2 separate regions of the Homo sapiens genome follow, and region 2 is linked to region 1. The links come from fine-mapping of genetic effects on gene expression. A gene starts in region 1. The other region holds a variant in brackets. All regions are shown on one strand. Distances are from middle to middle. Region 1 holds the start of ANKMY2 (ankyrin repeat and MYND domain containing 2). Region 2 overlaps ANKMY2 (ankyrin repeat and MYND domain containing 2).

Region 1 (16,449 bases):
CTCCAATGTTCCTTCCTCCAGAAAAGTGCTTTTTCACTGGAAGATACCTAAATACATGTTGAGCTTTACATAGTAGAGGAGAAAGATGATTTTATATGAGATTTACTTTCCACCTAGAGGAAAGGAGCTATGGACAGCACACACAACACTGGCCTTGCTAACTGAGGTGAGGAGAACCAGGAGATGAAAATCAGCAAGAAGTGGAGTGGCAATGCCAGAGAGCAAGTTAGTTTAAGACAGACACAAAACTGATGGGAGTGTTGGTGACTATTACTCCAGTGGGAAGTCAGAAGACAAGTTATTAAAGTAAAAGAGTGTTGAAGTGTTTGCCTCTCTTCAGAGGATTTTTAATCATGGAAAAGAGGAAAATAAAATCTTCAGAAAAAAAAGAAATAAAAAGAAAAGTAAGGCCTAGACTGGTAGACAGTGAGAGAATTCTGTTTTGGAGCAATTGCTTAAAAATCGTAATAGTGGACCTTCAGGAAGCTCAAAGGTGGTGGTGGGCATGAGTCCAAATATTGGCTCACTTACTAGTTCTCTCAACCAAGAAACTCCCATCCTCCCAGAAGGGGACCTGCCCAAGCCTGTCTAGCAGGTGAAGCTTTATTTGAAGGGCTACACACACACACACACACACACAAAGTTACTTTCCATATGCATGCTTATTACATAATGAGAGCATGAACTGGATAGAAATGCCAAGCCTAGTCTAGGGCACGCTGATGACATGGGACTGGATTCCCCAACACAACTTTACAGAAGTGGACCATACAAAATTGAATTAAAGGAAATAAAAAAGAACTAGTACAGAGCTACAAGCTCTCTGAATCATACATTTTAAAAAGGTTTAAGCCAGGTATGGTGGCTCATGCCTGTAATCCCAGCACTTTGGGAAGCCAAGGCGGGCGAATCACCTGAGGTCAGGTGTTCGAAACCAGCCTGGCCAACATGGTGAAACCCCGTCTGTACTAAAAATACAAAAATTAGCCAGGCATGGTGGCAGGCGCCTGTAATCCCAGCTACTCGGTAGGCTGAGGCAGGAGAATCACTTGAACCCAGGAGACAGAGGTTACAGTCAGCCAGTCAGCCGAGATCACACCATCGCACTCCAGACTGGGCAACAACAGCGAAACTCCGTCTCAAAAGAAAAAGGTTTAAACCTACAGAGAATCATTCATTTATTTGTTTGCCAAATATACCAGGTCTGGTACTAGTCAATAGGGATGCAGCAAGCACTAAATCAGGCAAATTTCATGGAGGTCACTTTCTAGCAGGTGGAGCTTTGTTCCAAGTATTGCACAATCGGGCAGAACAAGTTAGCAAGCACTGATTGTCTCCAGTATGTTTAAAGACAACATATGATGCATTCGAGATGCAGTTGTGTTTATTAACGTTTTAATAATTAAGTGCGTGTTTTTTTACTTTGTAACTTACAAGTGGCATCCACGCGGAATGGAATACTTTGAAAACCATGGATGTAAGCCCAGTCCCTAAGCTAACCTTCAGATAAGGCACTGAGATGTCAAACCACTTGGCTGAGGTCAGGAATTCCATTCTAGCATTGGTAAGACAGTGGAGATCAAAGCAGAACGATCCCTGCCCATCTGGAGCTTATGTACATGGAAGAGTTGGGGCCAGAACCTGATCCACTGTCTCCACTCAGTGCATTTTCCAAGGAGCCAACTAAAGCTGTTGCAATGTCTTAGAGAATTATTTATATGATTCTCGAAGACAGCTTTTTCATTATTTGCCTCATAAATTTTATAGTTTGGAATAAGATGGAGTAGCGCATAAATATTAATTTAAAGTTGAGTTCAGCACTTGGATAAATTGAATTAGCATATGTTACTTCCAAAATACCAAAGAGTTCTCCATAGAGTTCTATTAAGCGGTGGGGGGGAAAAGGCATTTATCTTTAGAGAGAGAATTTAACAATATTGCCTCTTAGGGACATACGAATATTAGAAAATTTATGGCACCATAATTTCTAGCACTATAGGATACAGTTTTTAAATTGTTTCCTGCAGAAGCTCAACTCTAACACAAACACAATCTTCACACTCCCAAATACTAACACCGCATCCTTTTCCTCCAGCCAGCAGTTTCCTCTGCACCGACAACTAGGGGTTCTCTTTCCTGTTTATAATAGTCCCATTCAATTACCTTGTTCACTGAGAAAAACATATAACATTTCTTTTTTCTTCTTAGAAATGACCATAAATCCAGGTTAGTTTGAAAACCATTAAAGTCTTCTGTGTGGATATATAAAAAGGATGACAGTAGAATATCATCCAATAGTAGCTTATGATATATTCTCTACAGTGCTAAACGTTATTATCCCTTATTATTCATCTCTGCCCCAGGGCTTTTCTTGAGATTTATTTAGAAGTCCTCAAAAATAACAGTACACCTGTTATATTTTTTAAAGTTCTCATCTAGCATAAAAATAAGTTGAGATGTAAAAAGAAAATATAATGCTACATCTGACACAAAAAATAATTCTACATCTTAAGTTATTGTTTTCCTACTAAAATATTAATATTTTCAGAATGGAATTAAAGATAGCCAAAGGATTATACTATCTTAAATATTAATACAGGGCATTATTCTTTCTTTTTGTCATTATACTTTTTTCCTTTAATTTTTGAATAAACTTAAAAAACATCAATGGAAACACCTATTGCTAAAAATCAAGAAAGAATAATGAGAACATTATCTTTTTGGCATTTAACCTTAAAGAATGGTTCATTCAATGAGTTATTCAAATCTTTATTTTCAAAATAGATAGTTTACAAATATGACTACCTGAACAATTTTGGCACTCTTCACTTAATACACGCCAAATTTAGAACGGGGCAAATCATTCCACTCGGCACCTAACTGCCCAAAAGATACTTGCTAAAGAGCGCCATGGCCTCAATACACAGAAATGAGTGAGTTAAGAATGAAAAGTATTCTTGTTTATGACCTGCTAAGATTGGTGGATTTCATATTAATTAAATATTCTTGTAAAATCCCAAAGTCTAGGATGACATGTTATAAAGGACATTTAATATATCTAAAACACAATAAAAAATTGTAAAGATCAAAAAATCAGTTTAAAAAATTGCACAAATTAGAAAGTAGGTGTCAGATTAAGTATTCAGCTAAGCAAACACTGAGTAAGAACCTACCAGTCACACCCTGTCCTGGGCCTGCTCCTGATTTTCCTAGACTAATACTTATCCTATCAGTGCTGACATTGCTCGAAACAGTTTTGGTACTCTTTTTTTTTGGAATGCCTTCTGAGTTGGATTATGACGCACAGAAGAACATCAGTATCTCCACTTCATTCACCTCTTGATTTTCTCAGTTAAACTAAATGTATCTGTACCCCTTCTTCAGAATTTTCTTTTCAAAAAAGATGAAGATTAACTACCAGTAAGATATTCATCAATTTGTTCTACAAGCACTGAGTAATGCCACCAACCTTTTACTTTTTGGAGAAGTTAAAATGTGATGTCAAATGTTTATGGAAACGCATTGTTCACAAGACAGTTCTTTGCAGATTTAGGTGTAACTGTTTTAACACTTAAATGAATAATCACATAAGCGAAACTCCAAGTATAGAAAAAAGAACATTTGTATTTATATTACTTTCTTATGTTGTGTTTAAAAAAAAAAGATTTCTTAGAGGCTGTAATACTTCCAAATTTTCTTTTTAAAAACTTCATTATGGAAAATCTCAAATATATCCAAAAGTAGAGAGAACAGTATAATCAAGTGAATATACTCATCACCCATCTTCAACTGTTAACATAGTCAATTTTATCTCATTTATATTCTCATTCAGTCTCTCTTCCTTTCTGTCACAGAATTATATTAAAGCAAATCTCAGCTGTCTTCTCATCCAGTTCTGAAATAATTCTGTTCCTATCTCTAAAAGATAAGTAATCTTTTAAAAATATAACCGTAATCTACTTCCAACTTAAAAAAATCAAAATTTCTTATTATCAAATATCCAGTCAATAAAGATACCTAAGTCTAAGGAAAAAAAGTCAAATGTCAAGACAAACAGTACCCTGAAAGATGTAATACTCAAAAATGCAACAAAAAGGCAGCATTCTCCTAATGTAGAGAGCTGGAAATCAGGGTCTTTAATGGGGAAATCTAAGAATGGCATGCCAAATTTGTAACATGTGCACAAGAACAATTTTTCTTGGTTGATAGCATTCATCAGAATGTCAAGAAGCTTGAGATCCAAAACATTTAAAGACTTTCTGCCTCTGGTTATGATTGTGCGTGCTTAGTGCCACCTCACCTCACATTGCCAGGAAGGATTAGTCAAGTAGGAAAACAAATCCACCTAAAATAACTTAGAAATCAAACTGAATTCAACTCAGCTTGTACTGAGCATACACTAGGTGCAAGACACTGGGTTAAACCTGAGAAACAAAGATAAATTTGACCTAGTTAATGTATACTGTAGAATGAGAAGGGACCAAACAGATTAATAATAACTATAATAGAATGCGATGAGAAAGTGCTTGTTTTAGGTATTTTCATGGAGATTCAGATGAAGAAGCAATGATGTCAATTTAGGGGGGCGGTAAAAGAGGGGTCGCTAGAATCCATAAGAAGAGAGAATTAAAGGCTGCCAGCAATGATACCAGTAGCCATGTTGCATATCAATATCCTCCATGTACAAAGATTTTACTTATAACCCTTGCCAAGAGACATGAATAAATGTATTTACTAGCATGTATATTTCCCTTACTGGATAGAGAGGGAGAGATGAACACAAAAGCTGAAGAAAAGAGGTTTTGTTTAAATTGTGTCTGGAAAGTTGAATAGTTCATCAGATCTGGAGAGGAGATTCAGTGAAAAGGGAAGGGAAATCATTCAGAGGAGGAGAAAAGCAGGAACAAAGGGGTGGAAATTACCGGCAGGTTGGGGAACAAGCAGAGTGGTGACCTTAGAGCCCAGTGTGTGGGAGGGCCCAGATGACTGGAAATGCCTGCTGAGACCATGGATGGATTGGAACCTTCCAGGCCAGACCCAGCCCTCTATTCTGTGGCCAGCAGAGAGCCATTCAAAGAATGATGGGTGCTCAATGTTTATTGAACTGGTAGTTCCCTGAATTAGCTAGATGGAGACAGGTGAGAGAGAAGCAGGCTACTTAAGATGCATTGCAATAGCTCTAGAGTGGTAGATATGAGAGGACACATACAACATTTCAAACATTTCAGAAATCATTATTCCAATTCTGACTTGACACTTCCTAATATGGGATTGTGGGCAAATTATTTCCCTTACTTTCTGTCCTCTTATTTGCAAAGTGGGTATAATATTGGCTCATTCCTGGGTTGTCATAACACTAGAATAATTCTATGCAAAGCATCTGGTAGAATATCTAGCACAGACTAAATACTCAATATGAAGTAGCTATCTTATTATCAATAAAACTTCTTTGATGTGAATCTGTTTTAATATGCTCATTATCTAATCTTATCCCTACATTAAATATTTACACCATACAAAACTACTAATGTAATCAATCCATCTAATGAACAGTACCCATTATGAATCTGTTTCTAGAAATGTAAACTGAACATGATTTATTTGCATTTCTAGGTAGATGTTAGATTCTCTTTCAACGTTATTGTCTCTAAATTCACTGGTCATGTATTCAGAGAGCACTAAATACCAACCAAGTGTCATAAGGCATCAAGAAAATAGATAGTAAGCTGCTATCCTCGAGGAACTGACAACCCCAGTGAGACAAACAGGTGTGACCTTCAAGTAACCATGGCCCAGATTTGGCACAAGAGATGGAAATACTAGCAATGAAGTACCCAATTATGTGTATGCATCTGCTGGTAAGATGCTAAATCACATGTTCCAGGAGGTTACCACTCAACTGTTTTTTTAGGTTTGTGGGTTTCTTCCGCATGATACTATGTTATAAATCAATTGTAACTCTGAACTAACAGCATTACAAAAGATTGGTCACTCTCAGGAGCCTTACTACTTGCTTGAACAGCCACATCATTATTAAAGCATCATCCAACAAAAGTATCTTTGTTATACACTGAGATGAATAATTTCAAACCATTTTCATGTAAGATGTTCTGGCTCAGATCTGTCCCAGTCTTTAATGCTGAAGCTTTAGGGGGGAAAAACAGCTGGAGTTTAGGAAAGATTTTTGCTAAAGGCAGGAAATAATGATAAACATATTCCAGGAGATTTCAGATGTTAGTGAAAGCTTCACGCAAAATAAATGCCTAAGGCCAGAGGAAAATGCATTTCGCTTTTCGTATGGCGCTATGAGAAGAAACAGTGGTCCTGGGGATGCTTAACAAAAACCACCTACATAATTACTCAAATATTTCTCTTTGACACATACACGTCTCTTTGACACACATATTGAGAGAAACATCAATACTACTCTGTAGGGAAACAACAGTAAAACATAAACACTAATTTCCAAAGAAACTTTCATTGATGATGTAAATATAAATCTGCACCCTGGAGAAATGACTGATTCCCGCATTTTAGCAAGCAAATCTTATTCTGAAATACACACTTGTATTTACCCCCATCTACCTATGGTCGAAGCTCCAGGCTACATATTACAGTTGAATGAAGGTTGGATTAAGAGGCTAATCTAAGGCTATATATAGGCAGCAACACCAATTTAATCTCCGCCCTCTCCAACCTCCCCACCCTCCACTCCCTATTTCCATAAATCTCAAGATCTGAGTTACAAAGAGAACCGAGAACTCTAGCAGAGCAAAGAAGCCCTTCCTTCCCCCTCCCACAGGCTGTCTCTCATAAACGAAGTATTAGTGCAAGTGTAAATTGTTTCCAAACATCTTTAACAAGCAACATTGGGCGATCAGGTTTTCTTCTACAGCTTCCACAGAGGCCAAAGAGATGACAAGTAGTGGGGAGGGCGAGGATCACCAGCGTAAAAACTACCTTCTCCCGAGTCTGTTCTCACTGACTCGCTAGTAATGGGGCGCTGTCCTTGCGACCCCTACCTAGCCCAGAGCCCCGGCCCCAGCCTCCCCGGGAGCCGCATCTGGCGGTGCCACGCACGAGACCATGTGCACCCGCCACTTCCCACCGCGTGGCTGGCCCCCGCCCGCCCGCCCGCGGTCCCAGGGTCTCCCGAGGCGGCCAAACGTTGCGAGTCGGAGGTCTTCATCCCAGGGCACTGATACCCCGTACGCGCCGTGATGATGAGGTGGAGCGGGGGCTTCTCCACCGCGAGGCAGGAAGCCGCCCCAGGAGGCACATGCTTCCTCCCCGCCAGCTCCTGCCCGATGGAAACCCCGGCGGGGCGGCAGTCGCTACTCTCGCAACCCTCACGGCGCCCCTTGCCTCACCTGGGCTGCTTCTCACCTGTCCGAGGAGGTAGCGACGACGCGCAAGGCTGGGGGCTGCGGCGATTCGTGCAGCAGCAGCGGCAGCAGCAGCAGCAGCAGCAGTGGCGGCAGACAATGGAGGAGTGAAGGACAGACACATTGACATAGACACACGGAACCCGGCGCAGCCCCGCCTCCCGTACCGCCCCCGTCTCCTAGACCGCCCCCGCCCAGACTGCGCCACTCCCGGGGGAATGGTGGGGGTACGGCGACAACCTGGGGCCTCTGCATGCCCCAGAAAGCCGTCGCTGAGCACATAACTGCCAGCTGTAGAATTTTCAATATTACATGTGGCGAAATATTTGAACCGGACAGGATAGGGGAGCGGAACGTGTAGGAGGAATTTAATTCCCCCCTCCAGCTTTCTGCATTTGGTTTTGTCCTCCCAGGTTGCTCCAATGGCGATCTCTCGCTACCGCCTCCTGCGGCTCCTCCTCCTCGGCAGGGCCAATGACAGGCGGCAGGCGGTGACCGCCGCAGGGCCTGCGGAGACCGTCCGCCTGGCTCGCCCGAGCTCGCCCGCTGTCCGCCAGCCCGCGGGAGGGAGGAGAGAAGCGAAGCGTTTCCGCGGTTGGCTACTCAGTGTCTTGGTCTCAAGTTGCCTCATTGCGGCTGGCGTTCCCAATACAGACGCATCGTTTCTTTTTTAATACTCCCTAAGAAAGGGAATAACCTTCAAGCTGGCGGGAGCAATGGTTCACATAAAGAAAGGCGAGCTGACCCAGGAGGAGAAGGAGCTACTGGAAGTCATCGGGAAAGGTACGGGTGCTGGGCTGCGACGCGGCCGCGGCCAGCCTGGCCGGGGGGCGTGGCGGAGCCCGGGGGGCGCTCCTGGCCTGGGTGACCTTTGGCTGCGGTTCTGCAAGGTTTGCAGCCTGGAACCGGGAAAGAGCGTTTCTCCCTTTGGTCTGGGAAAGGTTGCAGGGGCGGAGAGGTGGGGAGGCAGAAGCAGTGCTGGGACAAGAGGGGTAGTTACAGAGGCTCGGCCTCTAAATCCGCTTTTGGAAACGTACGGATTTCCACGCCCCGCCTTAGGTTAATGCGAGCTTCCCGGGGTGTGGACCCCAGTGTGTGAATTCTTCACTGCTCCCGAGGGATTTTGACCGCGGTCAGTCCTGGTAGTTTCAGGTTCTTAGGCGGGTGTCTAAATGACCCTTTAGACTTCCGCAGGCCGAATGATCTGGATCCTTTGCCGATCCCCGCCCCCGCTTGGGAGTGGAGGGCGCCCTTAGGGAGAGGGGTTCTTCATAAGGGTACAGAACTAGGTCTGTAATTTGCTGCATTGAGACTTCCGTATCCAGGGCCTCCCTGGCTTCCAGAAGCCCCGACAGCCTCAGGAACCCTAGAGAGACAAGGAAATTGGCGAGGCCTCCACACCCACCCCTCGGCCCACGTTGCACAGATGAGACCTTCTAATCGCGCTCCTTCGCGCTTTCTTGTCCACTCCCCCAAGGCGTGCCCCACTTCCGCAGTGCTGAGTCCCAGCGGGGAGCCCCGAGGACGAGCCAGAAGCCATATTTCCCCGGAGTCCCCGAGTGGACGTCCCAGAGGAGTTCCCTGCCGAGTCCCGTTACCTGGCAGGTGACATCAGCGTGACTGCATGCTTCTTCTGCACCCTCACGGTGCAGGGATGGTGATGCGTGCGACTCCGGGCAATTAATGTGGTGATTTTAAACTCAATAATAATATAGCCATGTTTGTCCTCGAATGGCAGAGATGCCAGTCATTGCAGCATAAGGCTTCCCAGTTTCCAGTTTTATTTACTTAGTAGCCAGGCTGAAATGTGGAATCCTAGAGAATAAGGCAGATTTATTCTTCATAGCGACAAGGAAACTCCACATGCGAAGGAGAAAAAATTCCGGTTTGAACTCAACAGGTGCTGATGAGCTGAGCCCACCCGATCTGATCTCAACTATTCTAAGTCAGTCACAGCTATATCTATCAATGATGTGTTCTTTGCCTGGAATTTGGGGATTTGGGTTAGAGTTTAGATTGTTGTACTGCATGGTTCTTGCTGACCTATTTGGCATTTCAGTCTTTCAGTTCTTCCTGTCTCTAGGTAATTTCTCCCTGCCTTTGATGGCTCTGGGATTCAATTAAGCAAACATGCAAGTTCTAGCTGTGTGCCAGGTACTGTGCTGGGCAAAAAGGAGACAAAGGATCAATTCACAATCCACCAGGGACAAAAATTCTTTTAGGCAGGACAGAGCTAGTACATGTCCTCTCTCTCTCTCGCTCTCGCTGTCTCTTTCTCTCTCTCTCTCGTTTGTTTGAGACAGGATCTCACTCTTCACCCAGGCTGGAGTTGCAGCTCTCTGCAGCCTCCACCTCCCTAGTGGCTGGGACTACAGGTGCGAGCCACCATGCCCGGCTACTTTAGAAAGATTTTTTTTTTTTTTTTGTAGAGATGGGGTGGTGGGGGTCTCCCTATGTTGCCCAGGCTGCTCTCGAACTCCTGGGCTCAAGTGATCCTCCTGCCTCGGCCTCCCTAAGTGCTGGGATTACAGGCATGAGCCACTGGGCCTGGCCCATCATGTGATCTCTTAAAAGTGAAAAATAGTGAGCAGTTTTATAAATTGAGTCTTTGAGAGGGGAGAAGGGATTCCTTGGATACATTCTCAGGTGTCCATCAGTATTTATTTTGAAGATTATATAAACCTGAATTAATGTGCATTTATTCTGGTTAGTGCTGTGATATTTCTGGGCTCACACGGTGCATCAAGTTGCATGAGTGCACTGATGCTTTCATCGCTTTCATTGGACCATGCCAATGAGAAAAGAACTGATGTGGACCTAGTATGTGATGCATTCTTGTCAAATGAAGGTCTGTGGGACATCACTTGCACTCATAAAGAAAAGTAATGGGAGATATGAGAAAAACAACCATAGCCAACGTTTATTGACTGTTATTGCAAGCCACACATAATTTTAAGTACTTTACATATATTAATGCATTTAATTTGGATGAGCTAGGAATTAATTTTAAGCTATGACAGTATGAGAGACAGCATGGGATAGTGGTTAACCATGCAGGTCTGGTTTGAAATTCTAACTCATTTACTGGTGATGTGGCCTTTGGGCAAGTGACTTTTCCTGAGCCTCAAGTCCTCTGTGTGAAAAATAGGAATAATAATAATACCCACCTCACAACGTTGTTATGGGGATGAAAGTAGTTAGTATAGTTAAAGCATTCGAAATACTGCTTGTGTTTGTGATAAATATAGTAATCTTCACTTTATAGGCAAGGCAACTGAGGAACTGGGAAGTTAGGAAACTTAGTGTCAAACAGGTAAGTGGCAGAAAGTGGCAGAGCAGAGGTATCACAGGGCCCATAGGTAATAAACAGGCTGTACCTAAAAACAAACTAAACAAAACATGAAACAGTACCATAGCAGTCCATACAATATTCACTTTGAGAGGTCATTTAGTTCTAGCAAAACAACATCTGTCAAGTTAACTCAGTTTTAAATGTTACTGATTTTGTAGTTCTGTGTGCATTAAATTTAAAGTAAATTTTTATTTTATAGTTGAAGAAAGGCCATAAGCAAAGTTTATATTTGTGCCAAAAAGAGGCATTTTTTTTAAAGTGGGTGAAGTGAGTTTTTTTTTTTTTCTTTCATACGTTTTTCAACTTTGAAAAACTCTAGATGAGACAATAAGTTCTAGTACTTTGAACTAACAACTTTTCAGCAAAGTCTAGCCTGGCATCTTGGTCAATCTGAAATAAACTCGGCAAATATTTAAGTGATTCCCATCTGCCAGCCACTGCTCTCCAGAAAGACAGACTCTAAGTGGGGCTTTTTATTTATTAGAATGCCAAGAAGTTCCAGATGAAAATGAAAATCTGTTTCCAACATACCCATTTAAATCATAGTTAATGACAGCATTCATTTAACAGTATGTAAGAGGAAATTGAAATCACTGAACTGTGTTTAACTGGCTTATATGACTTGTAGAGTTACCCATTCTTCTAAGCTTTGATACCTTTTTCATTAATCTCAGAGCAAGCACTATTATGAAATAAATTAAACCTTTTTTAAGGCTATGAGCTAGATAATTTTCACATTACTTCTCTTATTTAGTACCTGAAATTCCTGGGCTTACTGTTGCTAACAAGAAAGTATTATACTTCCTTTTTTTTTTTCATATCTGTGTAAAGGAGCTATGAAACAAGTTTGGATAATAAGGCTTTTTCTTACCAACTATTGAGATACAATAAATTGCACATATTACAGGTAGTACACACTTTTTAATCAGTTTTGATTTAAACATACATCTGTGAAACCATCAGTAAGATCAACATAATGAACATCTTCATCACCCCCTAAAAAGTCCTTATGCCTCTTTGTGATCTGTCACTAACTTCACCCCCATCTGCAGGCAACCACTAACAGATCTCTGCCTCTGTTGATTAGATTTCTCTATTCTAGAATTTTATATTAGTAGAATCATACAATAAGTATCCTTTTTTTGAGGGGGGGCTGGCTTCTTTCATTCAACATTATGATTTTGGGGTTCATATTTATTATGTGTACCAATAGTATGTAGCTTATTTTCTTCTTTTATTTCCAGTGGAAGGATATACTACTATTTGTGCATCCATTCCCATTGATGCCCAATTGTTGTTTCCAATTTGGGACTATTGAAATAAGATCCTGTTCTAAGGTCCTGTGTCGTTAATAATACTTCTGGTGTCTTTATGGTTGAGAAACATTCAAGTCTGCTTATAACCAATTATAGTACAGAGTTCAAAGAAAAAATTAAAATATATGGTTACCATTAGTTGGATGGCTGGACAGGTTATGCAACCTATATGGGCTTCATTGTCTTCATTTTCACAGCAACAGCTCTTTTAGATACTCCCAATTTTATACAGTGCTCTGTAATACTAATTTAAGATCATTTTTTTACAAAGTCTAAAAATAGATATGAGTAGGAGACCTTTTAGAAACATCGCACAAATTCACGATTTCAAAATGCATGTTATAATTAGAAGTCTCCACTATGTGTGTGTGTGTGTGTGTCTGTGTGTGAGACAGGGTCTCACCCTGTCACCCAGGCTGGAATGCAATGGTGCGCTCTCGGCTCACTGCAACCTCTGCCTCCCAAGTTCAAGCAATTCTCCTGCCTCAGCCTACTGAGTAGCTGGGATTACAGGCGTGCACCACCGCGCCCGGCTAATTTTTGTCTTTTTAGTAGAGATGGGGTTTCACTTTTAAAATATATTTATAGCTTTATATCTATGATTATATCAAAATCTATATCCATATGTTCTTGTTTTAAAATTAAGGCACTTTAAACATTTTTACATGATTTTACTTATACGTAAACACTATAACAACTAACAAAGCCAAATAGATTTCTAAATCCTTAACTTGATTATATATTCCTTAAAATATCCGTTTTCGTGGCTTCCAATAAATAATGATTGCAATCCAGCTGGACATAGTGGCTCATGCCTGTAGAGTGACCCCTCTGCACTTTGGGAGGATCCAAGAGGATCACTTGGACCCAGGAGTTTGCCACCAGCCTGGGTCTCAATATAGTGAGACCCCGTTGTTACAAAAAATGTAAAAATTAGCTGGGTGCGGTGGCGTGCACCTGTAGTCCTAGCACCTCAAGAGTCTGAGGCAGGAGGATTGCTTGAACCCAGGAATTCAAGGCTGCAGTGAGCCATGATCATGCCACTGCACTCCAGCTTGGGCGATGGAGGAAGGCCCTGTATCTATAAAAAATTAAAACAATAATAATGAATAACGATTGAAATCTATACGTGTTTGAATCTCATGGTTGTGTGATGAATTGCTGAAAACAGAATGTTTGTTTCTCCTGTTCTGTTTGTTTTGGCTGCATCTTCTTGTCTTTGGTAGAGACCCGTGTTCCCGATCTAGATATTAGAAATGTTACAATGAATTATATTGTGCTGCTCTGAATACAAAATAAAAAGAAGATCTAATAAAGGCTTATATGTGCTCCACATTAGGACACTCCTCAGATAACTGTGGGATGGATATTGTTATCCTTATTTCATAGATAAGGAAACTGAGAGTTTTACAGGTCTTTTTATTTACTTTTATTTATTTATTTACTTATTTTTTTGAGACAGAGTCTCGCTCTTGTCGCCCAAGCTGGAGTGCAGTGGCGCGATCTTGACTCACTGCAACCTCCTCCTCCTGGGTTCAAGCAATTCTCCTGTCTCAACCTCCTGAGTAGCTAGGACTACGAGCACGCACCACTACACCTGGCTAATTTTTGTATTTTTTTTTTTAGTAGAGATGGGGTTTCACCATGTTGGCCAGGCTGGTCTCAAACTCCTGACCTCAGGTGATCCATCCGCCTTGGCCTCCCAAAGTGCTGTGATTACAGGTGTGAGCCACCATGCCTGGCCAAGTTTTGCAGGTCTTGTTCCACTTTATAGTATTCCTGAAAAAGCTATAATGTAGTAGAAGAGAGAGCAGTAACACTAAGAATATCATTCTCTTTTGAGACAGGGTCTCACTTTATTGCCTAGGCTGGATTACAGTGGCATGATCATAGCTCACTGCAGCCTCAACTTCCTGGGCTCAAGCAATCCTCCCACCTCAGCCTCCTGAGTAGCTGGGACTACAGGTCCATGCCACCACACCTTGCTAATTTTTTAGAAAATTTTTTGTAGAGATGGGGTCTCACTATGTTGTCCATGCTGGGAAAATATTATGTACATAATCTTTTCTCTCCTAAAATGCTTGTTCATCCAGATAAAGTGATCAATTCCACCCTAATGAGGCAGGTTATGCTGTATTTTCTTCTTTGGTTTGAGCAGTTGGAGGAATTCTCTAAAGGGAAATAAATCACTAATTATTACTTTAATTAGTTTAGGTCTGTTGTTTCTTATCTCCAATGAAGGTAAATGTTGGCTCCTTGCACATCCCTTCTTATAGTACTCTATCTTCCACCCCCAGCAGTTTGTTAAATCAGATTTAACATATTTATTTCCCAGAATAAAGCAATTAATCTTTTACACTTACTTGTAAAATATTATTTAAGTCTACTATGGACAGTAGGAATGACATAAAGTAAAAATCCTTCTGTGTGAGCCATGTGTTTCACATTTCCATGCTATTCTGGACCTTCTATAATTTCCGACTAATGTCATTACATTGTGAACACCGAATTGGAAATCATCACAGTTTTTCCTCTTGGAGTGTTTTGCTCATCCATGTTCCAAATCTATTTTTACCCTCTAGAAGCCCAATCTGTTTCAGATTATTTTTCTCATTCCAGCCCCTGCATTTCAAAAGGCTAACCTTAGTGTGATTGTGGGTACGTGTACATGTAGGATATAATAAGAAATATCTATTTGGTCTCTGCCACTGGCTCCTAACACAGAGCTCCTAAAACCCTTATAATCTCCTGAACAATGGGGTGCTAGGTGCATCTATTGTTCTAATATTTGGTCTTTGACCCTGGTACCTGACACAGAGTTTCTAATCCCTTGGAATTTCCTGGGCGTTAGAAATGTCTTTTGTTCTAATGAGGCGACTGTTGGATAGCTTCAGGATGGGGGCTGGTCATGAGAAAGTCCAAGCCATGATTAGAAGGTTGAATTTTTCAACTCCACCCCTCCCCGCATCTTCAGGAAAGGGAGAGGAGCTGAAGACTGACTTAATAATAGGTCACACCTATGTAATCAAGCTTGCATAAATATTACTGAACTACAGGTTGCAGAGAGCTTCCAGATTGCTGAACTCGTGGAAGTTCTTGGAAGAATGAGTGCCTGGAAAGAGCATGGAATCTCTGTGCCAAGTGCCACATACCTTGCTCTTTGCCCCTCTTCCATCTGGCTGTTCATCTTTGTCCTTTGTAATATTATTTGTAATTGATGGGTAAATGTAAGTAGTGTTTCCCTGAGTTCTGTGAGCTGTCCTAGCAAATTATGGAACCTGAGGAGGGGATCATGGGAACCCTGATTTATAGCCAGTCAGAAGTACAGGGGCTTATGATTGGCATCTGAAGTGGGGACGGTCTTGTGGACTGAGCCCTTGACCTGTAAGATCTGACTAACTTTAGATAAACAATGTTAGAAATGAGTTAAATTATAGGATACCCCATTGGTGTCCAATGGAGAATTGCTTGGTGTTTATGGGGGAAACCCCATATATCTGGTGTCAGAAGTGAAGGATTGAGACTATTGAGTGAGAGTTAAGCAGGAGAGAACAGTTTGTTTTCCATTATACATGCATCATCTTTAAAATATATTGTTCCCTTACAGAATATGTTAACTTAGATTGTTGGCTATTTGGCAAACACCTTAGAGAATTATCAGCCTGTTCTCTAATGAGAGCCAAATGTTTATGATCTTAATCCCCATTCTACTCTTCCCATGTAGCAGGTTTTGACATGCTTACAATCACTATAGTATTCTCCCTTTCTTGCAAAAACATCTCTTGGGCAGATAGAAAAAGAAAATAACTTTGGTTCTCAGTAGAGAATGGGATTTGGATGAAGCATCTTCCTCAAGAGAAACTGGGGTGCGGGGTTTTTGTTCTGGTTTTATTCTTCTATAAAGATTTTTGAGAAAGTCTCTGATGAGAAGACACAGATACGAATAAGGTTTCATGTAGAACTGGCTCGCATGCTCACACACACAAGAGCTTTGCCCTTGCATAGCGATTCAGCCAGTGATACTAACTGCTTTCAGATGGAATACAGGGTCAGAAAAATGCATTATTTATAAAAAAAATAGCTGCTATCATACTCCAGGGACGTGTAGATCATTCACTTGACATTTTCCCAACAGAGCTACTTCTCTATCTAGGAGATGTTTCTGTTTTTTCTCTGTTGGTGAGGGGAACTCAGGTGACTTGCTTAAGAAGTGGGTCAGAGAGAAAAAAGCATGCTAATCTTTATTTTGCATTTCACCTTTAACTCTAGAAGGCTAGCAGAGTTTAGCACAGTCTTGCACTACAAGTCTAAATTTAAAGAGAGGAAATAACCTGATTGGGAGACTTACCTATTCTTTTATGTTCTTTTATAGGAGAGGCTTATCTTAGCCTTTCTC
Region 2 (16,449 bases), 30 kb after region 1:
GGGGTTTTGAGAGAAGTCAGGTTCAGATACAGTGTAAATTAGGTGTGGAGGATAGTAACTGAATATTATGTTAAATTTTATTAGAACATTTTCTTGAAACTACTAATAGAAGCTGCCATTGATTAAGCCAGACACTCAGTTGCTTTATGACAGCTTTTTCTGTTAGAAGAAGTATCCTTATTTTCATTTCAAAAGGACTTGAGAAAGGTATGGCCTTGTGTAAGCTTCGGAGAAATATTTTAACTCCCGTGTGTACAGGCCCCAAGTTGCCCCATCTCAGTTCTGAGCTAATTTTGAGGGTGTCACTGCAGGGGGAAAGAACACTAAAGTAGGAATCTGGAGACTTGAACTTTAGTTCATGTGTGCTGATAATTAGTTATAGGATCACGGGCAAATTCCTTTACCTCCATAGGCCTCAGTTTTCTGATCTGTATGCAAAGAAGCAGGGGAATTAGGTGATCTCTGAACTTCTATTTAACTGTACAAGTTTTCATTATATCCACAATGTAACAAAATATTGCTCAGATACAGGTAAAAAAATTTCCCAAGATCACAGGTCTGGAAATGGAGGAGTCTCTTCTTTCAGGCATTAACACAATGCTCCTTTCTTTTTCTTAACACTACAATACTAACAAAATTTTTACTACAGTAAAAATTGTTTGCAATCCTATCCTAAAATAAGAGTAATGTTTTCATTCCATTTTAATATATTTAACTGATTTCACAGACAGAAAATTACATTGCACCCTTCCAGTTGTTACTGTATTTTCCAAATAATTAGCCTTTAAAAAAGCTCATTCTCCCCTTTTTGTTTCCTTCAAGTGGATCAGTATGTATACATGCGTACATACATACATAAGATTTTTGTCATTTTTTAAAAATGCCACCCATCACACAGCAGATATTCCTTGTAGCTTGTTTTCTTCACTTACTAATACATCATGGAAGTTCCTCCCATCTCAGTAGGTGTAATTCATTTCCTTCAACAGCTATATGATACTCCATGATATAGATGTTCCACAGTTCAGTTAGCTCTCCCTTATTGACAGATTTTACAGTTTTTTAACCACTTTTCTACAAATAATGTAATAATCATCCTTGATTTTCTATGTTTTACAAGTTAGTACTTGAATATTTTTTACATGTTAGAACTTTAATATCTCTAAAGTATTTCTTAGAAGTAAAATTGCTGAGACAAAGGATATAGAGTTTTTATTTTTATTTATTTATTTATTTATTTATTTATTTATTTATTCATTTATTTTTGAGATGGAGTCTCGCCCTGTCGCCCAGGCTGGAGTGCAGTGGCCCAACCTCAGCTCATTGCAACCTCCGCCTCCCGGGTTCAAGTGATTCTCCTGCCTCAGCCTCCCAACTAGCTGGGATTATAGGTGTGCGCCACCACGCCTAGCTAATTTTTTTTGTATTTTTAGTAGAGATGGGGTTTCACCATGTTGGTCAGGCTGGTCTTGAACTCCTGACCTTGTGATCTGCCCGCCTCGGCCTCCCAAAGTGCTGGGATTACAGCCACCACGACCAGCCTAGAGTTTTAATTTTAATGTAAGTCTAGATTCCTTTCCAAAAGGGCATAGTAATTCACAGTAATATCCTCATCAGAGCTGAGTATTACCATTCTTTGATTTTTGCCACTCTGATAGTTAAAAAGATGGTACATTGTGAACTTACTTTCCCCTCATTATTTATGAAATTAAGCACTTCTGTTGTTGGTAATTTGTATTTTCACTTTTGTGGATTACCCACTTATACTCTTTATTCATTTTTTTGTGGGGGGATGCCCTTTGTTATTGCTTTGAGGAGCTTTATGCATACAAATCCATTATCTAACAAATGTGTTTCAAATATTTTATGCCAGTCCTCCTCTTCCTCCTCCTCCTCCTTCTTCTTCTTCTTTTTATTCCTCTTCTTCCTCCTCCTCTTCCTCTTCTTCTTCTTCCTTCTTTCTTCTTCTTCTTTTTTAACTTTATGGAGACCTTTACCATAGGAAATTTATTTATTTATTTATTTATTTATTTTTTTGAGATGGAGTCTCACTCTGTCACCCAGGCTGGAGTGCAGTGGCATAATCTCGGCTCACTGCAACCTCCACCTCCTGGGTTCAAACGATTCTCCTGCCTCAGCCTCCCATGTAGCTGGGACTACAGGTATGTGCCACCACACCCAGCTAATTGTTGTATTTTTAGTAGAGATGGGGCTTAGCCATGTTGGCCAGGCTGGTCTCGAACTCTTGACCTTAGGTGATCGTCCCACCTCCCAAAGTCCTTAGGATTACAGGCATGAACCACTGTGCCCGGCAGGAAATTTATTTTTAAGTAGTCATATTTTTTCTTTTATAGCTTCCGTGTTTCTTGTTTTGCTAAAAGTGGGCCTCTTGACCAGGAGTTACATAAGTATTCTCCTAAATATCCTTCAGTTATTTTTTATGATTTTTTTGGTACATCTAGAATTTATTTGTTTAGAGTTCATTTCCCCCCAGATATATAGCTAATTGTGATGGCACCATTTATTACACCAGCTAACATTTTCCTACTAAATTGAAATACCACCTTTGTGGTAAGTTAAATTCTCTTTTACTAAATGATTATATAATTATTTGCAGAGAATTAACATTTGTATGAGGTTAGGACTTTCCATCCAATTACACAGTACACTTTTACATTTCTTTTAGGGGAGGGGACTGACTTTTGGTCTTTCAGTAATATTTAATTGGTTCCTTCATATCAATCCTTTCTTTCAAAATTTATTTCTTAGTAATTTGTGGTTACTGTCCACATGGTAAGAATTTGCACTACCACCTCCACACTCAGTCACTTCCAGCTGGTTATGGATAATAAAGAGAAAAGCTATTGATTTCTGTATTTTTTTCTTATTTTTATTACAGTTTACTGCGTTTTCTAGCTATTAAACTTTATCTTGATTTCTATTTGAATTTGCTTCGGGCCAAGTAAGAAGAAATAATAGTGATAATTGGCATGTCTTTTTCCTGTTTTTAATGAAAATATTTTTAGCTTTTCACTTTTAATATATTGCTATTGGTTTTATCATTGTATAATGTCACTCTTTTTCTTGTTGAATTCTTTTAGTTCTACTTTTACTGATATTACAGCTATTCATAATTCCTTTTTTTGTCAATGATCTGTTTGCTCATCTGTTATTTTCAATCTTTATCATTTCATTTAAGTAGTATAACTTATAAACATATAGGTGGGTTCTGTTTTGTAATCTAAAATGTTAGTTTCCCTCTCTTAACAGGTATTTAGCTTATGTATATTTAATGTAATTACTGATATATGTGGTTGCATTCCTCCTCTTTTACCTCATTTTTACTCTTTATTTTACTTGACTATTGTTTGTGCATGCATCTGTGTGTGTGTGTGTGTGTGTGTGTGTGTGTGTACACATGTATTTCCCTAAAGTGATTGGCTGGTCAAAACTGTACAGTACCACATACCCCATCCCCAAGGCCCCATATTTACCCATTTAGCAACTTTATAAGATGAAATCCTTATACTTCATTTATTTCTCCACATTCTCTGTTTTTGCCTTGTCAGGCCACAGGTCTTTCCTTTCTGCCTTCTCTGATACTTCCTCAAAACCTGTGCCAATCATACCTGTAGCTGTGGACTTTGCTGAGAGAGTCTAGTATTTTTAGCACAAGCTGTAATGAGAGTGTCATTGACAGGGTGTTGCTTCTCTTTCAGTAATCCATACCACCAGCTGTGTGATTTGCCTGTCATCTATCTTCACCCACTCATATGAACTCACTCTCTTACTGTCCTCTCTCTCCTCCCCTTTGTCTCCATTTTTGCATTTTTGTCTTTAGATCTCTGTTCTCATTTAGATTTTGGTTATAGGACCTTTTCAAATGGGTTACGTAGGTTGTATATTCTTTGACACCCATCATGACAAAACTATTAATACCTTTCTTTCTGAAATGTGAGTCATATTTTGCCTAGCTTTCTGACTCATATCAGAGTTCTTTTCTCTCCGACATATAGAAGTTATTCTACAGTTTTCTAAGTTCTGGTTTTGCAAATGAGAATTCAACTTACTTTCCATTGTAAACTTTACATTTCTCATTCTGGAAGAGCATTTGATTTTCAGTTTATCCTTGAAAGTAAAAAATTTGAAAAGGATACGTCTTGTTGTATGTGTGTGTTCCTATTAATCACACTCAGTGAGCCCTGTAAGTCTAGAGGACTCAAATCTAGTGATTGTAATATGGGAGCAAAATGATGTACTGGCTTCTCCACCTGCAGCATTTATTTTCTATATTAGTAGTATTATTTTATTTATGTATATTCAGAATTTATAAATTTAAAACTAGTAAAATATTTAAGAATTTCAATTACAAACATTTAAACCTAAATGATTAAGTATTTACAAAGATAAACTTTAAACATATTATTCAAATATGTTATTAGCAGATTAATTAAAATAAAATATCAAAATAAGCATTACCTAAAATGAAAAACCTTAATCTGGAAAAAAAGGTAAAGTAATACTATTTTTTCTTTTTAAAAAGGTATAATTAGGCCGGGCACAGTAGCTCACGCCTGTAATCCCAGCACTTTGGGAGGCCAAGGCGGGCGGATCACCTGAGGTTGGGAGTTCGAGACCAGCCTGATGAACATGGAGAAACCCCGCCTCTACTAAAAAATACAAAATTAGTTGGGCGTGGTGGCAGGCACCTGTAATCCCAGCTACTCGGGAGGCTGAGGCAGGAGAATCCCTTGAGCCTAGGAGGCGGAGGTTGCGGTGAGCCAAGATCGCGCCATTGCACTCTAGCCTGGGCAAAAAGAGCAAAACTCCATCTCAAAAAAAAAAAAAAAGGTATAATAAAGAAATCCTTAGTCTTGTGACAGTATCTTTGTTATGTAGCAATTATTTTTATGTACAGATATTTCTACCTGCTGCCTGCTTTTCCTAATTGTACTAGTTGGAGGACTGATGAGAAGATACAGTTATAAGCTAATTCCTTATTTTTCTCTGACTCCTTTATCTTCAAGTCTTCATATGTCTGGTTCAGTACTTTTGATGAGCTATTTTGGAACTTTTGTGTGTGTGTGTGGAAACACCTATCTTTTTATTGAAGCTGGATGTAGATTTTGTTTTAAGGAAGCATGTGCGGTTTGTCTTCATCTTCTCTGGTTTCTTCACATACAGTTGTAAATTTCCTCACAATTACTTGGGTTGATTTTGATAACTGTGTTCATAACCCACTTGCATTAGATTTGCTTGGTTGAATGTCATTTTTCTCTCTTGAAGATTCTGGAAGGAGAGGTGATCATTTTCTAAACAGAGCACCTTGGCTCATTTCACATTTTTAATATAGACTGCTACTGTTTGACTTTTCAAGACGTATGTACTGGGGAAAGAAATAAAAGAAATACCCACCTCCCCGAATCCCCCCAAAAAGAAAGAAATTGGGTGTTCTGGTACTTAATAAAAGCATAGAGTACCAAAAATGGTATTGTGATCACTATTAAATTCTCTTTTCAAATCAGGGAAGTTTTCTTTTATCATTTGTTTAATTCTCCATCTATTCCTTTTTTTCCTTTGAGATGTCTGTTAATTTTCACTATTAGATTTCCTGGATTTGTTCTTTAGCTCTTTCATCTGTTGTATAATGATTTCTATATCTGAATTTTTCTGTTTTGAGATATTTCATCCACTCGATCTTTTTTGTTTGTTTTGTTGAAACAGGGTGTCTGTTACCCAGGCTTGAATGCAGTGGTGTGATCAAAACTCACTGCAGCTTTGGCTGGGCATGGTGGCTCACGCCTGTAATCCCAGCACTTTGGGAGGCTAAGGCAGGCAGATCACCTGAGGTCAGGAGTTTGAGACCAGCCTGGCAAACATAGTGAAACCCCATCTGAAAATACAAAATAGATTAGCCAGGTGTGGTGGCACACACCTGTAGTCTCAGCTACTTGGGAAGCTGAGTCAGGAGAATTGCTTGAATCCAGGAGGCAGAGGTTGCAGTGAGCCAAGATCACGTGACTGCACTACAGCCTGGGCAACAGAGCCAGACTCTGTCTCACCCAAAAAAAAAAAAAAAAAAAAAAAACACGCTCACTGTAGCCTCCAACTCCTGGCCCCAAGCAATCCTCCTGCCTTAGTATCCCAAGTAGCTGGGACTACAGGCACATACCACTGTATCCAGCTAATTTTTTAAATTATTTGTAGAAACGGGTTTGTGCTGTGTTACCCAGGCTGGTCTGCACCTCCTGGGCTTAAGCAATCCTCCTGCCTCAGCCTCCCAAAGTGCTGGGATTATAGGCATGAGCCACCATGCCTGCCCTTCATCCTCTGTGTTACTA[G/A]TTTAGTTCTCAATAGTAACCAGGATCACCTCTTTCAGTTTGCCTGTTAATTTTTAAAATTTGAATCTCTCTGCGGCTCTTGAAAGTCTATTTATATATTATAATTGAATCTGCTTAAGTGCATTTATTAGCTGTAGTTGTGGTAGTTATTGTTATGGTAAATGTTACCCACACACTTTCAACCCAAGAAGCCCTCTGTTGGAGGCATGGCGTAGTCTTCAGAATTGCTGGATCCCCATACGTACCTTGTTCTGTACCTCCCAGGAAGTCAGGTAAAGCTGATAGGGTCCTGGATCAGTGGAAGAAGAAAATTTAATGTCTCAATTAAGACATTAATTAATTACTTTAGAAAATTATCACTCTCCTTATAGAATCTTCAAGAAGAGAGAAAAATGACATTCAACCAAGCAAATCTAATGCAAGTGGGTTATGAATACAGCATCAAAATCAACACAGGTAACTGTGGGGAAATTTAGAAATGTGTATGAAGAAACCAGGGAAGATGAAGACAAACTGCATATGCTTCCTTAAAACAAAATCTACATCGAGCTTCAATAAAAAGATAGGTGTTCCCATAAAAAAAAAAAGTTCTAAAATGTCTCATCAAAAGTATTCAACCATTTAATTGAGACATTAAGCTGGTTTGGTCAGCAAACCAGCTGAGGCACAAGGATGAAGCCTGCCACTCCTGGGTTCTCCCAGGAACTTTCAGGGACAAGCAGAGCCCTCTGCCAGCCTCAAGCGCCAGCGTCCAGCTGGCCCACAGTGCCATCCCCACGCAGGTCACCTGTTGTCGGCAGGATCAAGCAGGCGCTCCCAGGACCAAGCACAAGCAGGCAGGGGCCATGCAGGCTACCCAGGGGGAACCACTCTCCGGGAGCGGGGGCCATGGCGTCTGCACGCTCTCCCCAGGCGCGCCTCCGCTGGTCCCCCAGCCCTCATCAGGCAGAGCGGAGGAAGAAGTCTCCTCCGGAGATCCAGGAAGAGCCTGCGCCCGCCCTCCTGTGTGCCCTGTGGCTTCTGCCTGCTTGCCCAGAGTGGCCACTGCTTTGCTCCAGAGAGGTAGTGGAGAGGGAGCTAGGGAGGGGGGGGCGCCGCAGGAGCACACTTGCAAACCAGCAGCTTCGCTAGGGAAGAATTTGCTTTCATAGAACCATTTTTAACTAGAGATGGCTTAGAGAAGTGGCTTGGAATTCTATGCAAAGCCACGATGTGGATTCCAAGCTTATGGGAGCGAAAGCCTTTTCTCTACATTTCACAAAGAGGGCAAGCTTTTCTCAAATTTAGGGGGTAGGGGATAAGGGGGAGGGGGTTTAGTTTAATATTATCATTATAGTAAGAACAATACTTTATATGGAGTAAATTTAAATTTTGTGTAAATACAACTGGATGTGATTAGGGAAACATGAGCATCATTTGCGTAGGCTGGGAAGAAGAGACATTTAACTTACAAGCAACTGTTAGAAAATACTTAAGGTCTCTTACAAGTTGAGCAGTGCTTTCTTTTGTAATCCACATAATCTTCGTATGTATTTTGGATTCTGTGTCTTTCAAAGATTGTTTATCAACTTTACAAGGAATGTTTATAAATGTTCTCTAAAATATTTTATCTCTCCTCCTCCTCCTCTACTCTCCTTTCCTGAAAAATAAAGATATTGGTGCATGTTTACATCACAAAAATAGCAACATAATTAATTTTAAAAACCAGATGTGTTATTTTTAATACTAAAACTACAACTTTTCTATTTTTCTATGAAAAGGTCAACATGATTGTGTGACCATAATCAACAATTTCTTTCCTCGAGAGAGACTGGATTATTACACTAAGCCCCAGGGACTGGATAAAGAGCCAAAACTGCCCCCAAAGTTGGCAGGCCCGCTGCACAAAATTATCACCACAACGAATCTTCATCCTGTCAAGGTAGTGTGGTGTCTACCGTATTTGCTTTTTATGTAAATATTGCTTCAGAGTTTAAACTGCTTTTATTATACAGGATCATAATTGTCTTGGGGTGGGTTTTGTAGTTGTAGAGCTTGCAGTGGGCTCTTTTGGCCTGTTAATTTATTGAAGGAACACTCTCCGTTGAAACCTGGAAGTGAGTGAGCGAGAGAGAAACAGACTAAACCATCAGGAAAAGCCACGCAAAGAGATGGGTTTGCTGAAGCCTAGCTTCCACCTCATCCCACCGGGAGCTCTGGAGTGTGAGTGGCTCCAGAGAGGCAAAGGAATTCTTTTGTATTCATCAGTCTGTTGTTGGGTGGGGCCTGTCTCCAGAGGGAAAGGACAGCCTCCCACATAGTACCAAGTGAGGTGGCTCCCTTTCAATGAGGGTAGTCCTCTGGAGAAAAGACCATAGTAGCTGACCCTGAGAGCCCCGGGGGCCTGGTATACAGGCCTGGTAAAAAGGATGTATGTGGGGGCACTAACAGCATCTATTACAATAATTGTCTTTCTAAGAAAGATTCTGAAATGTAATCATGAGCACATTTTTAAACTAAGTGGCTATTTGATGCCTTTAAATAACATAGTTCTTCCAGTAATTCATCAAATCAGATTTTCAAATTTCATAGGCCAACACATAAGTTCAAATGGCTTAACTGGGAAACTTCAAGAGCTATTCTGAAATATTTCACTGCTATTGTCTTCCAGATTTTAAAAATACAGGCTTTTGCTGTTGTTGTTTACACATAATTTTTTCAAAAAAATCCAGCTAAACAAGTATAATTTCCTCAATAATCATCACAGAAAACTACACAGCTACATGTGTGCTACAGTGATGAGGTCCTATTTCAATTTCAGTATCTATCACATGCTTTTACTCATAAAGATTTGATAGTAGTTCAGAGCTGTTTAAGTGAGCAAGATACTAAGTTGTGTCAAAAGTTAAGGTTCTTCCTTAACATAAGGCGTTACTATCATGTAGTAAAATAGATTTCCCCAGAAGTTTATTACGAAAGAAGAATCTGTGGAGTCTGCTGAGCATCATGAAAATGAGTGGACAGTTCTTATAAGGTGACTCTTCTGAAGACTGACACTCACTCAAAGATATAAGATCCAAAATGTGTATAATCTTATTACTTTGTTGATGCATCCCTGTGCATCTTTCTTGAGTACTTGAAGGTTGAGAAACAAACCAAATTTACTCATTGTGTGTTCCTCCACCCAAATTAATTTTCTAGGCCCTTAAGAGAGATGACAAACTAGTAGATACCTTTCCCATCAGACAGAAGAGTGGAATCTGCTATTTTTATTTTAGAAAACTCAGAGTTTTTCTTAATATTCTGGAAGAACTGCCAGAGGCAACACTTGTGATACTAAGTGGGCAAATTCAGTTGTGAACTGCATACTCATGTTTCTAGTGGAGATTACAGAGGGCTTAGAATTTAACCTTTAAAAAATATGTATTTTCTTCTGTGTTACTGTTTCTCTCCCTCCCAGCATACCTAGGGAAAAGAGAACTCCCAAGAGAAGCATTGACCTCTGTCCATGGCACTCTCTCAGGCATGGGCTGGCTGGGATGGGGAGACAGGTTTCTGTCAGGGTACAGTATTTCTCAATGTAGAGAATGTGTGTGGTTCTGTAAGACTCTTGTTCCTCCACTGCCTGAGCAATACAGGATATTCTGGCTTAGACTGACTTGAAGAAGTTCCCTGTACTTTTCTGATTCACTGTCTTTCATATCTATGTTTCTGCCTCTTCAGATTGCAGTAAGGGTTTGTGGAATTTTTTTTTTTTTTTTTTTTGAGATAGGGTCTTGCTCTGTCGCCCAGCCTGGAGTGCAGTGGTACAGATCTCGGCCTTCCAGGTTAAAGCGATTCTCCTGCCTCAGCCTCCTGAGTAGCTGGGATTACAGGTGCCCACCACCACGCCTGGCTAATTTTTGTATTTTGGGTAGAGATGGGGTTTCTCCATGTTGGCCAGGCTTATGGAATAATTTTTTATGTTTACTTGGAACCCAGTCTTTCAGGGTTAAATGTCCTAATAATTATTAATACTCTACCTTCAGTTATCTTTGAAGGTATATATTTTAAGTAAATTAGATTGAGGGCATAATTATGCAGACAATAATTTGTAAAGGTATATAGTCTGAAATAGACTACATAATATTTTTTGGAGTATGAAGGGGGCTATCCTATTATATACCTTCCTCCAGACCAGACCTTGCTTTTTGTAGGTATAAACAATCTATTCGCTCGAAACCTTTTCTTTTATCCACCCTTGGGATCTAAAAGCCACCCAGTTGCTTTTGTTACTGTGGCCCATTTTTATTGCTCTACCCCCTTTTTAAGCTAGCATGGCATTTCCTATGGAGTATTATTTAAAAACTAATAACCACTGTGTAATGTTAAACAGCTTTTAAAACAACCTCGGAAATTCTCCCCAATACACACCTCACTTTTCATTACAGTGCACCTAATATAGCTGTATTTGTGTCTAGATTAAGTGGCTGCCGTAGCAATAAGGATGCATTTGTTTTCAAAAGGGATTTGGAGGATTGTGCTGATGCCCAGAATATGAAGGTTATCTAGGAGAAAAACAAAATCACAGAAAAAAATGTCAGCAGAGCAGGGTCTCTAAGTGTACAGGAGGCAGATGTGCACAGAACAATCATGTCTTTGATTATTGTGATTTTCAAGCCCAGTATTGTAGATTTAGCAGTTTTTAAAAATAGGATTTAAAAAATAAAAAGAATTCAAAATGCCACTACATAAACATATTCTCAGGTAGCAATCCTTTGAATGGTAAAAATTTATCTAGTTTTTAATGCCAATAGAAATATATTTATTTGCTCCTCCTCATTAATTAATAAAAAGGATTTCCTTTATAATATATTACTTCATAATGCTGCAGAGATTAAGGAAGGAAACAAGTACAAATATTATTCTTTTGTGTGCAGCTATGTAGTTGTTTCAATAAGCGCATGTTAATGATGTGGTTATTTGTCATTTTTCTTGGTGTATATTTGTGCTGTGTATTAAAACATAGATAAGGTCTGATGTCTCCAAACAAAAAATTATTAATCTGGGCTCTGTTTGAAATTTTTTGAAAGAATTCTCACTTGTAAGTTTAAGATTCTATAGTTGATTATAAATGCCATATATAAAAATACTGATCAAACAACTTTAAATGATTACAATTAGCAGAAGTATAAACAGATAATTAATGAGTCTTTTCTTCTCCACCATAAATTGTCAAAGTATGTTTTGGTAGAGAGAGTTATCAATAAGGATTCTGATTATACTTACTTCATTAAGTCTAATAACTTATTATTAAGTGCTGGATTTTTGTAAAACACTAGATTGTGTATAAATCTAATAAATGTCAAAAAGTGAAATTCGTTTAATTTTACAAGGACATTTAATCTGTGTTAAATTTCTAATTAGAGGGCTAGCTATGGGCTTTACTAATAGATGATCTTTTTTCATGCCTAAAGAAAAGAATCTAATTCAGGAAATCTACCTGTTGTTCCCTGACATGTATAGTCCCTGGGATATTGATTTAGCTGTAACAGGTAGGTTAGCAAGTACTGACTGGCTGTCTGCTCTGTGCATACAGTTGTGTCCCTGTTACATTTGTTGTGGTCTTTGTGCTCCTTAGTTCAGCTAGATCCAAGTTCTTGTCTTACAACCAGGAAGAATTAGACAGGTGGACACTGGAGAGTGAGTGGAGTAAAATTTATTAAGTGAAAGGAAAGCTCTCAGCAAATAGGAGACGCAGTGCAGGGTGGTTCCCCTACCCAAAGGCGGGAAAGTGCCCCATGTGCCTGGGTCCAGGTCCTTTTATGGACTCAGAAAGGGGAGTGCATGCTGATTGGTTTGTGAGTATGTAAAAAAGGTTAAAGTGAAGACACCACTCAATGGTGGGCACAACAGTGTAGAAAACCAGTTAGGAAAGGGTAGGTGTATGTAAAATAGGTGAAGGGTGGGGATCAATCAGAAGAAATTGAGTCAAACAGGAAGACAAGTTCTCAATCCGGTTCAAGGATTTAATTTGTAGCTTGGCTTTCAGGCTTTAAACTGTCTTTGGCTTGGAAGTGGGGCTTCACCAAGGACCCACCCCTATTCTCTCTAGGCATTTGGCTGCCTCCTGCCACTCTCACATTCATGTTTACATTACTGTTATGCCACCATGGATATTTACAGCAGTCCTTTGCAGACCTACTTCAAATAATCTACCCTACAACAAAGCTAATACAAAAATACTCCATATTACACTAAATTTGAGCATAATCTGTGCATACATAGGAAATGTGGGACTCATAACGTGTAAGATTTGATCATTCTAATATTTCCCCTTTAAAGTTATTTATGGCTTCCTCTTTGACCTGTTCTCATTACTGTAGATGATTGGAAGCATCTTCAGGAAAATTTCCATAGAGAAATATAGTTAATTGGAAAGTAAAGCATATTTCATTTTTAGACTTCATTCTGAAAAAATCTCATTTTCTTGTGCTTAATAAGAATTAATGAGAATTGTAGTTCTCCTAGCCATGAAATTCTAGAGCTGAGTAATGTTAACTAAAAGTGGTTATTGCTCAATGATTTGATTCTTTATGTAAAATGTACAAATTTGTCATGTTTATCTTTAGTAAAAGTGAATTTAACAGAGACTGTAAAATCATGTGCTCTTGAATGGCATACTGGCACTGTGGTGTAGGTAGATGGAAGATCACATTATAACTTTGATATACAGAGTTCAAGAGATTCCACTATTTCAGGGTCTTTCTATATTAGTTCTATAAGTTCTGGGTAATTTGCATTCTAACAAATAACATAATAACTTCATGATCCTAAGGAAGGCTTTCTTTGGTAATCTTTTGAAATCAACTAAATGGACTACCTAATTTGTACATGAACAAGTGTCTCCTTTAATACCTGAGTACACTGGGATTTCCTCTAGATCGTGATGCTTGTAAATGAGAATCCTCTGCTGACAGAAGAAGCAGCCCTGAATAAATGCTACAGAGTGATGGATTTGATTTGTGAGAAATGTATGAAGCAAAGAGACATGAATGAAGTATTGGCTATGAAGATGCATTACATAAGCTGTATCTTTCAGAAATGCATTAACTTCTTAAAAGATGGAGAGAATAAACTGGACACCTTGATCAAAAGGTACTCTTTTTACTATGTCGTTTATAAAATACACTCAAGTGAATATTTTTTTTAATATGAAGCCTCATTATTATGTGTTTCAAAATTAAACATTTTGGCAGCAATTGCTGTTGTTGGACTCACATTTAGTCTTTGACAAACAGAGAATAATATTATACTTATATTGAGTGATTATTCAGTTCTGTATCCTTTACTGTGATGTTTTTGTTGTTACCAGCAATTTACAGATGAGGAATCTGAGGTTTGGAGAGGTTAAATAACATGTGTAAGATCACACCGCGAGAAAGTGGCCCAAGTCCAAATTTGAGAATATTTTATGCCCTAGGTCGCAGCCCTAGGTTTGTAATGGCATCCAGGGTGTCTCTGTTACTGTATCTTGGAGAGCTGTGTGTTATGCTGCTTCTCTGACCACCAGAGATCAAATTCTCTTGCATCCTTACCTAGAAAAGGGAACTAAGTCTGAAGGGTGTGGCTCTATGAGAGTTTTCATTCTTAGTACAAATAACTGACATGGTAATAAGTAACTAGCTAATCTGATAACAGTGTTTAGTGTGTTTTATGGTGGTAGTCACCTTTGCATATTCATTTAATGGGCTGGAAAACCTTATAAGGCCTAGCCTAACATATAGGTTGAACAGCAATTTGAACTGAGCCCGTCATCATGATTTGAAGAGACAAAGAAAATCATAAGTAACAGAAGAAACTACTAAAAACTGTTGGGTTCAACTAGGAGAGAATGCTTAGTGATTCAACTCCAATTACGCTTTAAAAAATATCTTTCAGCTTGTTAAAAGGCCGAGCTTCTGATGGCTTTCCAGTGTATCAAGAAAAGATCATTAGAGAAAGTATCAGAAAATTTCCTTACTGTGAAGCTACACTCCTCCAGCAGCTGGTTCGAAGCATTGCTCCTGTTGAAATTGTAAGGCTCCTCTTACCTAAGTTGACTCTATCAGTAAAACCTAATTCCCACCTATTGTATTGTTAAAGGCAAGTTCTCTTTAATATTTATTTTTATTATTTCAGAATATTTTTAGGAACAAAGGTGGAGATAGGTTTGCCTGCCAAACCTGTTCCTGTTTATTTATTTCCCATCTCACGATCCTCTTCTTACCTTATTATGGTTCATAGTTTCATAAACAGGACGTCGCTATGTTGAAATGTAGATGGTTAGGGTAGAAACTTACATTTTAAGTACATCCACTATGTAATATAGGTACACACATGTACACTTGTAGCTATATGAATTATCAGCACAAAGTCATACACTAGATGCAAGTATGAATTGATCACCTAGGGGGATAGTGTCCAGGCAGTGGGGATGTAGTGGGATAAGCCATGGGAAGGCTCATTGTGGTTCCTGGTAACAATCTCAAAGTATGCCTCAGCTTCCTATAATCCACCTTAATGCCTCTGATTAGAAAATGTCCATACTTACAACCTATTTATACTTACCCACTATATAAGTGTATTTTGTTAACTTTATCTGTTATTTAAATGACTTACTATTCATTTGTCATATATTTTAATTTATTTGGCCTTTTCTATTTTGCGACAGAGTCTGTTTCTGTCGCCTAGGCTGGAGTGCAGTGGCACAATCTCAGCTCACTGCAACCTCCATTTCCCAGGTTCAAGCGATTCTCCTGCTTCAGCCTCCTGAGTGGCTGGGACTATAGGTGCGCGCCACCACGCCCAGCTAATTTTTGTATTTTTAGTAGAGATGGGATTTCACCATGTTGACCAGGTTGGTCTCGAACTCCTGACTCAGGTGATCTACCCACCTCGGCTTCCCAAAGTGCTGGGATTACAGGCATGACCCACTGCGCCCAGCCACCTTTTCTATTTTGAATAGGTTTTTGTTTACCCTATCTATACCCATTCATGCTTTTATACGTTTCAATCAAAAACTTGATCAGCTTTTGTCTATCAGGCAAGAAATTGATCCTAAGACCAGTCCCATCCATGGCTTCCTCCCTCCCTCTGGCAAATCTGGTTCCCTTCTCTGTGCCTTCTCTCTGGGTTGTTATGTCATTCTCAGTGTGGAACATCAGGGCTTCAAGTGGGCTCCAGATGCTCCTTTGTACATTAAGAATTCACCTAGTCTGAGCCATAAAATAAACAAGAAAGACCTGAGCAGAAAAGACCATCTCATAAAGCTCATGCATTAATTTGTTCATGTGTGCTCCCCCTATTTTCAAGAGTTTCTTTACTCATACTTTTTAATATAGTTGGCTATTTAGTGTTTATGCTTTTGGAAGAATAAAGTTAGCAAATTATGATTTGTCAATTACAAATGTGTCTTGGCAGCACATATCAAAGCCCAACCAACCATGAATTAAATAGATGAGGGTTTATGTATTCACATATACATAGATGCCCAAAGGTAGGCAGACTAGGTCTGGCATAGTGACTTAAAAATAGTTTGGGGACCCAAACACTTTCTCATCTTTCCCTTCCAATATTCCTTAGCTGTGTAGGTTCTCATATGCATACTTATGATCTCATGGTTACGAGGCATTTGATGTTCCTCCTCCAGCTCACATTCCTATCCCAGGCAGGCAGGAAGAGCAAAGGGGTCTATATCTGGAAAACATAAGCTCTCCCAGAAGCCCTCTGCCTGTGTCACATGACTTTCCTTAGCTACACAGGAGTCCAGGAAAATTTTTTTTTTTGGCTTTTCTAAACACTCCTCCTCTGAACAAAATTACACTTCTGTTACTGAGGAAGCTGGGAGAATTGATATCAGAGAAGCAACTAGCAGTACCTGTTATGTGGGATTTCCAGCACTCACAAATGGTTGCTGACCTTTTACCTTCCTGGGAAAAAACAGAAAAACTAAAACAGCAACCCAGAGTTCTTTAAAAAAAAAAAAAAAAAAAAAAAGCAGGTCAATATTGTGGTCAACAAGTTATCCTAGCTCCATATAATAGAATAATGTAATTAGAGTTTATAGAGTATAATTATTATTATTTTTATTTATTTATTGAGGGGGGTC

Evidence for each region. PIP is the estimated chance that this variant, and not a neighbour inherited with it, causes the effect.
Region 2: its variant is fine-mapped to the expression of ANKMY2 in whole blood (INTERVAL, PIP above 0.99).

Annotation. Positions count from the first base shown.
Region 1 is chr7:16,637,226-16,653,674 of GRCh38, reverse strand. ANKMY2 (ankyrin repeat and MYND domain containing 2) reads left to right here and starts at 7,921. Exons shown (of 10, transcript NM_020319.3): 1 at 7,921-8,168. The coding sequence starts at 8,102. It overlaps BZW2 (basic leucine zipper and W2 domains 2), which reads right to left and starts at 7,494. Exons shown (of 12, transcript NM_014038.3): 1 at 7,387-7,494. RefSeq lists enhancers at 4,809-5,320, 7,515-7,794.
Region 2 is chr7:16,607,557-16,624,005 of GRCh38, reverse strand. It overlaps ANKMY2 (ankyrin repeat and MYND domain containing 2), which reads left to right. Exons shown (of 10, transcript NM_020319.3): 5 at 8,102-8,262; 6 at 13,243-13,457; 7 at 14,241-14,376. LOC105375169 (a long non-coding RNA gene) reads right to left here. Exons shown (of 5, transcript XR_007060226.1): 2 at 10,734-10,867; 3 at 7,827-7,980; 4 at 6,587-6,630. Among named protein-coding and RNA genes, the nearest start is that of ANKMY2, 30 kb to the left of the region's middle. The variant G/A (reference allele first, on the strand shown) is at 6,342.